2 linked regions of the Homo sapiens genome follow. The protein of the gene in region 1 purifies or fractionates together with the protein of each later gene. This does not show direct contact. Each region holds a gene or a part of one and is shown on either strand. Other genes may lie near its edges. The genes, in order: CLK4 and RASA4.

Region 1 (3,816 bases):
GAAGAGGGGCTGGAGATCCCAGCTAGTACTGTTGAGGTTGATTTGAAGTTAGAGCAGTGCAGGGGGCATGCAGCTATGATGGGCTAAGAGTCACTTAGGCAGCTGTTGCACAATGATGAATTCCCTGTTCGTGGGGCACCTCGCCAGATTTCTGTTTCTGTCTAATCTGTAGAGATCCTGTTGAAAAGTACTCTGAGTTTATAGATAAGTTTGATGTCTTAGAATCATGGTTATTAATCAGTTCTGGGAGGTATTGTCTGGTTTTGCAGTGGTGAGCTGTAGGGTCAAGAAAAAGTTAAGCAAAGTGAATGCTTTCATCAATCTGACTAATATGAAATGGATGCTTCCGGTGATTTTGTGATTATAAATCACTTTGAGTTTTAAATGAAGTATATATTATTTGAGAGGTGGTTTATATTTTAACTCCACCCTGCAAAATACTCTTAAACTAAGGAATTTCTTTAAAATGTGAAGCTAGTATTACTTATTCCTGTCATGTATCACAACGATTTGGAAGCAATATGCAAGGCACAGTAGTTGATAGATTTCTTTTAAAAGTGTTGCATACAGCCTCTGCTCTCCAGAACAAGGGTTAGCAAACTTTGGCCCATGGTGAAATCCTGCCTGGTGCCTGTTTTTACAAAAAGAAGAAGAGTATGCAATAGGGACCACTCATGACGAGCCAAGCCTAAAATATTTACTATCTGGCCCTTTACAGAAGTTTGCCAACCTCTGCTCTAGAAGCATACCATTCCAGCTGTAAGTTTGACCGTTTTCTGTATTCTACTTCAGCCAAGCCTCCGTTACTAATTTAAGGATATGTGCTTTGACATGGGTTGATAGCTTAACTTTCCTCATATATGAGCTATATGACTTTGAGGTAGTATCTTAACCTTTTTGAAATTCATGTTCCCACATACCTAGCTCAGAATTGTTTAGAGAATTATTGGGACTGTATGTATGTCTGTTGCCTGGGAGTAGTAAGTGTTAACAAGTGAACTATTCATTGGGTACTGGATGTTAATTTTGGTTAAGCAGCTGATTAAATGAGGAGACAGTTTTTCTGGTAACCTTGCCCAGTTATTCTTTAAACAGTGTAAGAAGTGCAAATAAAGAAGGAAACTAAAATTTTAGATTAAACAAGTTAATGTGTTTGTAGGGAAATGGAGAGTACTAAATTTCTTTTTCTTACATGTTTTAGACTCATGATAGTAAAGAGCACCTGGCAATGATGGAACGAATATTAGGACCCATACCACAACACATGATTCAGAAAACAAGGTATGTTTTAAGATTCAAGACTTTTGTTGGATATGTGCAATAGCATATATTCAAACTACAGAAAACCCAACGTTGTTGTAATACTGATTCCAAGGACTATAGATTTTGACTTTTTTTTTTTTTTCTGTACTGGAGGTAACTTCTAACTTCATCTTACTCCTTTTTTTTTTTTTGAGATGGAGTCTCACTCTGTCACCCAGGCTGGAGTGCAGTGGCACGATCTCAGCTCACTGCAGCCTCTGCCTCCTGGGTTCAAGTGATTCTTCTGCCTCAGCCCCCTGAGTCGCTGGGATTACAGGTGCCCACCACTATGCCTGGCTAATTTTTGTATTTTTAGTAGAGATGGGGTTTCACCGTGTTAGTCAGGCTGGTCTTGAACTCCTGACCTCAGGTGATCTGCCTGCCTTGGCCTCCCAAAGTGCTGGAATTACAGGTGTGAGTCACTGCACTAGGCCATGTTTTTAAAAACTAATATAATAAAAAATATTTACCTTGTGATCTAGTGCAGGGGTCCCCAACCCCTCGGAACTGGGCTGTACAACAGGAGGTGAGTGGCGGGTGAGTGAGCATTATTGCTGCCTGAGCTGCACCTCCTGTCAGATCAGCAGTGGCATTAGATTCTCATAGGAATGTGAACCCTATTGTGAACTGCGCACGTGAGGGATCTACGTTGCATGAAGGTTCCTTATGAGAATCTAATGCCTGATGATCTGAGGTGGAAGTTTGATTCCAAACCATCATCCCTCCTCCCCGGATCTGCTTCCATGAAACCGGTCCCTGGTTCCAAAAGGGTTGAGGACCACTGATCTAGTAAACAAAATGGCTTTTGGGTTTTTTTTGTTTTTTTTTTTTTTTTAACTCAAGTTTACGTTTGCATAAGTGTTTTCTTAAGGCGATGTAAAAATAATACATAGAATATGGAAAAGCTTGTGTTTTGGAATCATATCACTCTAAGTGTGAAATTTATTCTGTCCTTAACCAGCTGTATATTCTTAGACAAGGTGGTATTTCCAAACACAGCTTCATCGCAGAAGCCACCGAGGGAGTTCTTTAAAGATTTCCAGCCCCATTCTAGATCTAGTGAAAACAGAATTTTAGGACTGGATCCAGGGGGCCCCTAGTTTTAAGCTGACATTGTTCCATATGTGATAGGAACAACTTAGTTGAGAGACTAAAACCTCACAGGGTGGAGGATATGAGGTGTCCGATATATAATTGTTGCTGAGGTTTTTAAAAATTGTATGCATCTATATTATATAAGTCTATACACTTAGAGAGAGCTGCTTTCCATGTCTCCCCTCATGGGTGCAGGGTAAAGATACGACTCTTGTTATTTTACTAATCCAGACTTTTTTTTTTTTTCTGTAGAAAACGCAAGTATTTTCACCATAACCAGCTAGATTGGGATGAACACAGTTCTGCTGGTAGATATGTTAGGAGACGCTGCAAACCGTTGAAGGTAAAAGAAAAAAGATTAAAGGTTAAATAAACCACGTGTTTGCACTATTAATAATTTTTTTTAAAACAAAAACATTTCTCCCCCAGGAATTTATGCTTTGTCATGATGAAGAACATGAGAAACTGTTTGACCTGGTTCGAAGAATGTTAGAATATGATCCAACTCAAAGAATTACCTTGGATGAAGCATTGCAGCATCCTTTCTTTGACTTATTAAAAAAGAAATGAAATGGGAATCAGTGGTCTTACTATATACTTCTCTAGAAGAGATTACTTAAGACTGTGTCAGTCAACTAAACATTCTAATATTTTTGTAAACATTAAATTATTTTGTACAGTTAAGTGTAAATATTGTATGTTTTGTATCAATAGCATAATTAACTTGTTAAGCAAGTATGGTCTTGATAATGCATTAGAAAAATTAAAATTAATTTTTCTTTTTGAAATTACCATTTTTAAATACCTTTGAAATATCCTTTGTGTCCAGTGATAAATGTGATTGATCTTGCCTTTTGTACATGGAGGTCACCTCTGAAGTGATTTTTTTTGAGTAAAAGGAAATCTTGACTACTTTATATTCTTAAAGGAATATTCTTTATATACTTCAAATTTAGAACTTAACTTTAAAAGTTTTTCTTCTGTAATTGTTGAACGGGTGATTATTATTAACTCTAGATAAGCAGGTACTAGAAACCAAAACTCAGAAAATGTTTACTGTTAGAATTCTATTAAATTTTAAGTGTTGTATTCTTTTTCATTGGGTGATGTCAGGGTGATAACCAGACATTCATGGAAAGGCATGCAGTTTGTCCATTGTGACAGTTTGTTTAATAAAACCACATACACACTTTATTTAAGATTAAAATCTAACTGGAAAGTCAGCTTGGAAAATGGACATTTCCAAGTATGTTTGGTGAGTCACAGATATAAAAATAGAAATTCTGATGAGAGGTTTCAGTTTTTAATACCAAGTCCTTAGGAGTCTTAACATTGGCCAGCATCTGTTTATCAAATGACATAAATACGTAAACCTATAAGAATTAAGTTTATTAATTAGGCAATTTATGTCTGTGATAA
Region 2 (3,816 bases), on another chromosome or scaffold:
TGCGCCAGGGCGTGGCGCAGCTGAAGGACTTCATCACCAAGCTCGTGGACATCGAGGAGAAGGACGGTGAGCGCCGCCCTGCACAGACCCGCCCACAGCCTACTGCTGACGTTTGCTCCGCCCTTGAGCCCCACGGCCCCACCCATCGCTGTTTGTTCCTCTCGTGGCCCCACCCACCGCCTGCTGTTGGCATTTGCCAGGCCCCCAGGCCATAGACCCACGCACCACTGTTTGTGCTTCCTGTGACCCTGCCCACTGCCTGCCGTTGACGTTTGCCCCACCCCTAGACCCATGGCCTCACCCCCCCATCATCTGCGCCTGTTGACATTTGCTCCATCCTTGAGCTCCATAGCCCCGCCGCCACCTGCTACTGACGCGTGTCCCGCCTCCAAGCCCATGGCCCTGCCTTCCTCAGTCCACCTGTCACCCCGCTCACCACCAGCTGTTGATGTTTGCTCCGCCCTTGAGCCCCATGACTACGTCCACTGCCTGCTGTTCAGATTTGCTCAGCCCTTGAGCCCCATGGCCCCTCCCACTGCTCCGCTCCCCCCAGTCCCGCCCTCATTCACTGGGCTCTCTATTCCCCTCCCTCCCTGGCCTGGCAGAGCTGGACCTGCAGCGGACGCTGAGTTTGCAGGCGCCACCTGTGAAGGAGGGGCCACTCTTCATCCACAGGACCAAGGGCAAGGGCCCCCTCATGTCCTCCTCCTTCAAGAAGCTCTACTTCTCCCTCACTACCGAGGCCCTCAGCTTCGCGAAGACGCCCAGCTCCAAGGTGGGTAAGGAGGGAGGCCGGCAAGTGGGGCTCTGAGAGGCCGGCAAGTGGGGCACCTGTCCCCTTCCTTGGAGCCCACTTGAGGTACCCCCGGGGTCAGAGAAGAAAGCCAGGTGTGTGGCATCTGTACTGCTTGTCAGAACCTAGGAGGGCCGGGCACGGTGGCTCACGCCTGTAATCCCAGGACTTTGGGAGGCCAAGGCGGGTGGATCACTTGAGGTTAGGAGTTTGAGACCAGCCTGGCCAACATGGAGAAACCCCGTCTCTACTAAAAATACAAAAAATCAGCCGGGTGTGGTGGTGGGTGCCTGTAGTCCCAGCTACTCGGGAGGCTGAGGCACGGGAATCGCTTGAACCTGGGAGGCAGAAGTTGCAGTGAGCCGAGATCGTGCCACTGCACTCCAACCTGGGCAACAGAGCAAGACTCCATCTCAAAAAAAAAAAAAATGAATATGGAGGAAGTTGATCCGACCTTACCAGGTTGTTGAGGATTAAATGAGATGATCTCCCTAAGGGTCCTGACCCAGGGCCTGGCAGGTAGTACTATTTAGGCAAATGATATTATTAAAGATAGTATATCACCTGGGCTGCTAGATGAGTAGGAGGCTAGGGCAAACAGGGGAGGCTTCCTGGAAGAGGCAGGAATATAGAAGCACGGAATCTTGGCGTGGGAAGGGATCTCAAAGATCACCTTGTACAGCCCTCTCTGAGTCATGGGTCACCTCTCCTGCAAGCTCTCTTCTCCCAGGAAGGGCTGAGGACATACTTCCTCCATGGACCTGGTGACTGCTTGCTGTACACCTGCCCCCAGTCATGCAGGCTATGGGGATGATCTTCCAGGAGTACCCAGCCTAGCCCTGGGCAGGTGAGAGCGGGCTAGGAGTAGGTGAAGGAGCTCATCACCCACCCTGTTCTCAACCAGCTCAGGGGTCCCACCAGATGAGGGGCCCGCCCCTTCCGACCAAAGACCCCTCAGATGATGATAATTATTTTTTGAGACAGGGTCTTGCTCTGTCACCCAGGCTGTAGTGCAGTGGTGCGATCATAGCTGACCGCAGCCTCAAACTCCTGGGCTCAAGCAATCTTCCTACCTCAGCCTCCCGAGTAGCTGGGACTACAGGCACGTGCCACCAAGCCCAGCTAATTTTCTTTAACTTTTTTTTTTGCGGAGATGGGGTCTTGCTATGCTGCCCAGGCTGTTCTCAAACTCCTGGCCTCAGGCAATCCTCCTGCCCCAGCCTCCCAAAGCACTCAGATGATTATTATACATCTTCCTTGCCAGGGTTGAAAGATTTGACTACATGGGCATTATTTAATTCTGGTCCCATTTTTTTTTTTTTTTTTGAGATGGAGTTTCGCTTTTGTTGCCCAGGCCAGAGTGCAATGGTGCGATCTTGGCTCACCGCAACCTCCGCCTCCCGGGTTCAAGCGATTCTCCTGCCTCAGCCTCCCAAGTAGCTGGGATTACAGGCATGCGCCACCATGCCCGGCTAATTTTGTATTTTTAGTAGACACAGAGTTTCTCCATGTTTGTCAGGCTGGTCTCGAACTCCCAACCTCAGGTGATCCGCCTTCCTCGGCCTCCCAAAATGCTGGGATTACATGTGTGAGCCACTGCGCCCGGTCAGGATATGACTATTAGAGCCTGGGACTACAAAAGCAAGTTGGAAAATTAATAAATGCAAAGTCACAAAGCCTTGGCCACGGCCGGATTGACTTTGTAGCCCAGGGAATGCTGGCTGTCCCGACACTACCCCAAAGCTCACACCTCCGAGGCCTTCTGGGAGTGCCCCCCAGAGAGGCCAGGTCCTCCTCTCCCAGTTGCTGGGCACTTGGTCACCATCAGTCTGTGCTCTGCCCTGGCTGAGGTCACTCTAGGTCTCCCATGCCTACCCCTGGTGCTGCAGAAGGGGAGACTGAGGCCCAGAGATGGGGAATGGAATGCCCCTGGCTAGGTCCCTGAGCCTCCTCCTCCCTGCCTGCCCCAGAAAAGCGCCCTCATCAAGTTAGCCAACATCCGGGCAGCGGAAAAGGTTGAGGAAAAGAGCTTTGGCGGCTCGCACGTCATGCAGGTCATCTACACGGACGACGCCGGCAGGCCCCAGACTGCCTACCTGCAGTGCAAGGTGCGGGGAGGGGAGCGGGTGCTGTGGGAGTGGCCTGAACACTGTGGGAGTGGCTTGGGTGCTGTGGGAGAGGCCTGGGTACTGTGGGAGTGGCATGAGTCCTGTGGGAGTGGCCTGGGTATTGTGGGAGAGGCCTGAGCTCTATGGGAGTGGCCTGGGTGCTGTGGGAGTGCCCTGGATGCTATGGGAATGCCCTGGGTGCTGTGGGAATGGCCTGGGTGCTATGGGAGTGGCCTGAGCTCTGTGGGAGTGGCCTGGGTGCTGTGGGAGGGGCCTGAGTGGACTGGATGAGAAAAGAGTTGATTGAGCTTCTCGCCCCGCTACCAGCTACATCAGGCACCGCAGGGTGTGTCTAATCTGGGAGGTGTCAGGGACAGGTGTGTGTGTGTTGTCCAGGGGCCTGAGCCCCCAGGAGGCCATGGCCCATGTCTTTCCCTGGGCATCCATGTGTAGGTCTGTGTGTGGGCCAGTGCACAGACAGGTGCATCCCCGTGATGTGAAATTTGCACGTTGCACCCGTTTGTTGGAAACTATTTCCAGATAACTGAGATGGGGGCCAGGCACGCTGGTTCACACGGATAATCCCAGCATTCTAGCCAGGGCAACAGAGCAAGACCCTTTCTCTAAAACAGAAAGTCTGAGCTGGCACCTGTGTGGTTCTGTGTCTGTATCAATGCCTAATAATCAAACATTATGCTGTGTGTGGCTCTGGGTGCATGTTCTCAAGTAACCTTCTCATCTGTTCCTTCATTAACTCATTCATTCATTTATTTAAAAAATACTTACTGAGCACCTCCTAGGTTCCAGGCATGATTCTAGGTGAGGGGATACAGTGGCAGATGAGGCAGAGTCCTGCCCTCATGGAGCTGATATCCCTGGGAGAAGATGGGCCAATAAATACATGTTTCAAATGTC

The links.
Region 2: the proteins of CLK4 (region 1) and RASA4 purify together in Homo sapiens (affinity purification with mass spectrometry, with the first as the bait; one large-scale study listed by BioGRID). This does not show direct contact.

The regions. Positions count from the first base shown.
Region 1 is NC_000005.10:178,602,768-178,606,583, reverse strand, and holds part of CLK4 (dual specificity protein kinase CLK4), read left to right. Parts: intron 1-1,201; coding exon 1,202-1,281; intron 1,282-2,649; coding exon 2,650-2,740; intron 2,741-2,826; coding exon 2,827-2,967; 3' UTR 2,968-3,816. UniProt on the Homo sapiens protein: Dual specificity kinase acting on both serine/threonine and tyrosine-containing substrates.
Region 2 is NC_000007.14:102,589,244-102,593,059, reverse strand, and holds part of RASA4 (ras GTPase-activating protein 4), read left to right. Parts: coding exon 1-66; intron 67-605; coding exon 606-775; intron 776-2,763; coding exon 2,764-2,901; intron 2,902-3,816. UniProt on the Homo sapiens protein: Ca(2+)-dependent Ras GTPase-activating protein, that switches off the Ras-MAPK pathway following a stimulus that elevates intracellular calcium. Functions as an adaptor for Cdc42 and Rac1 during FcR-mediated phagocytosis.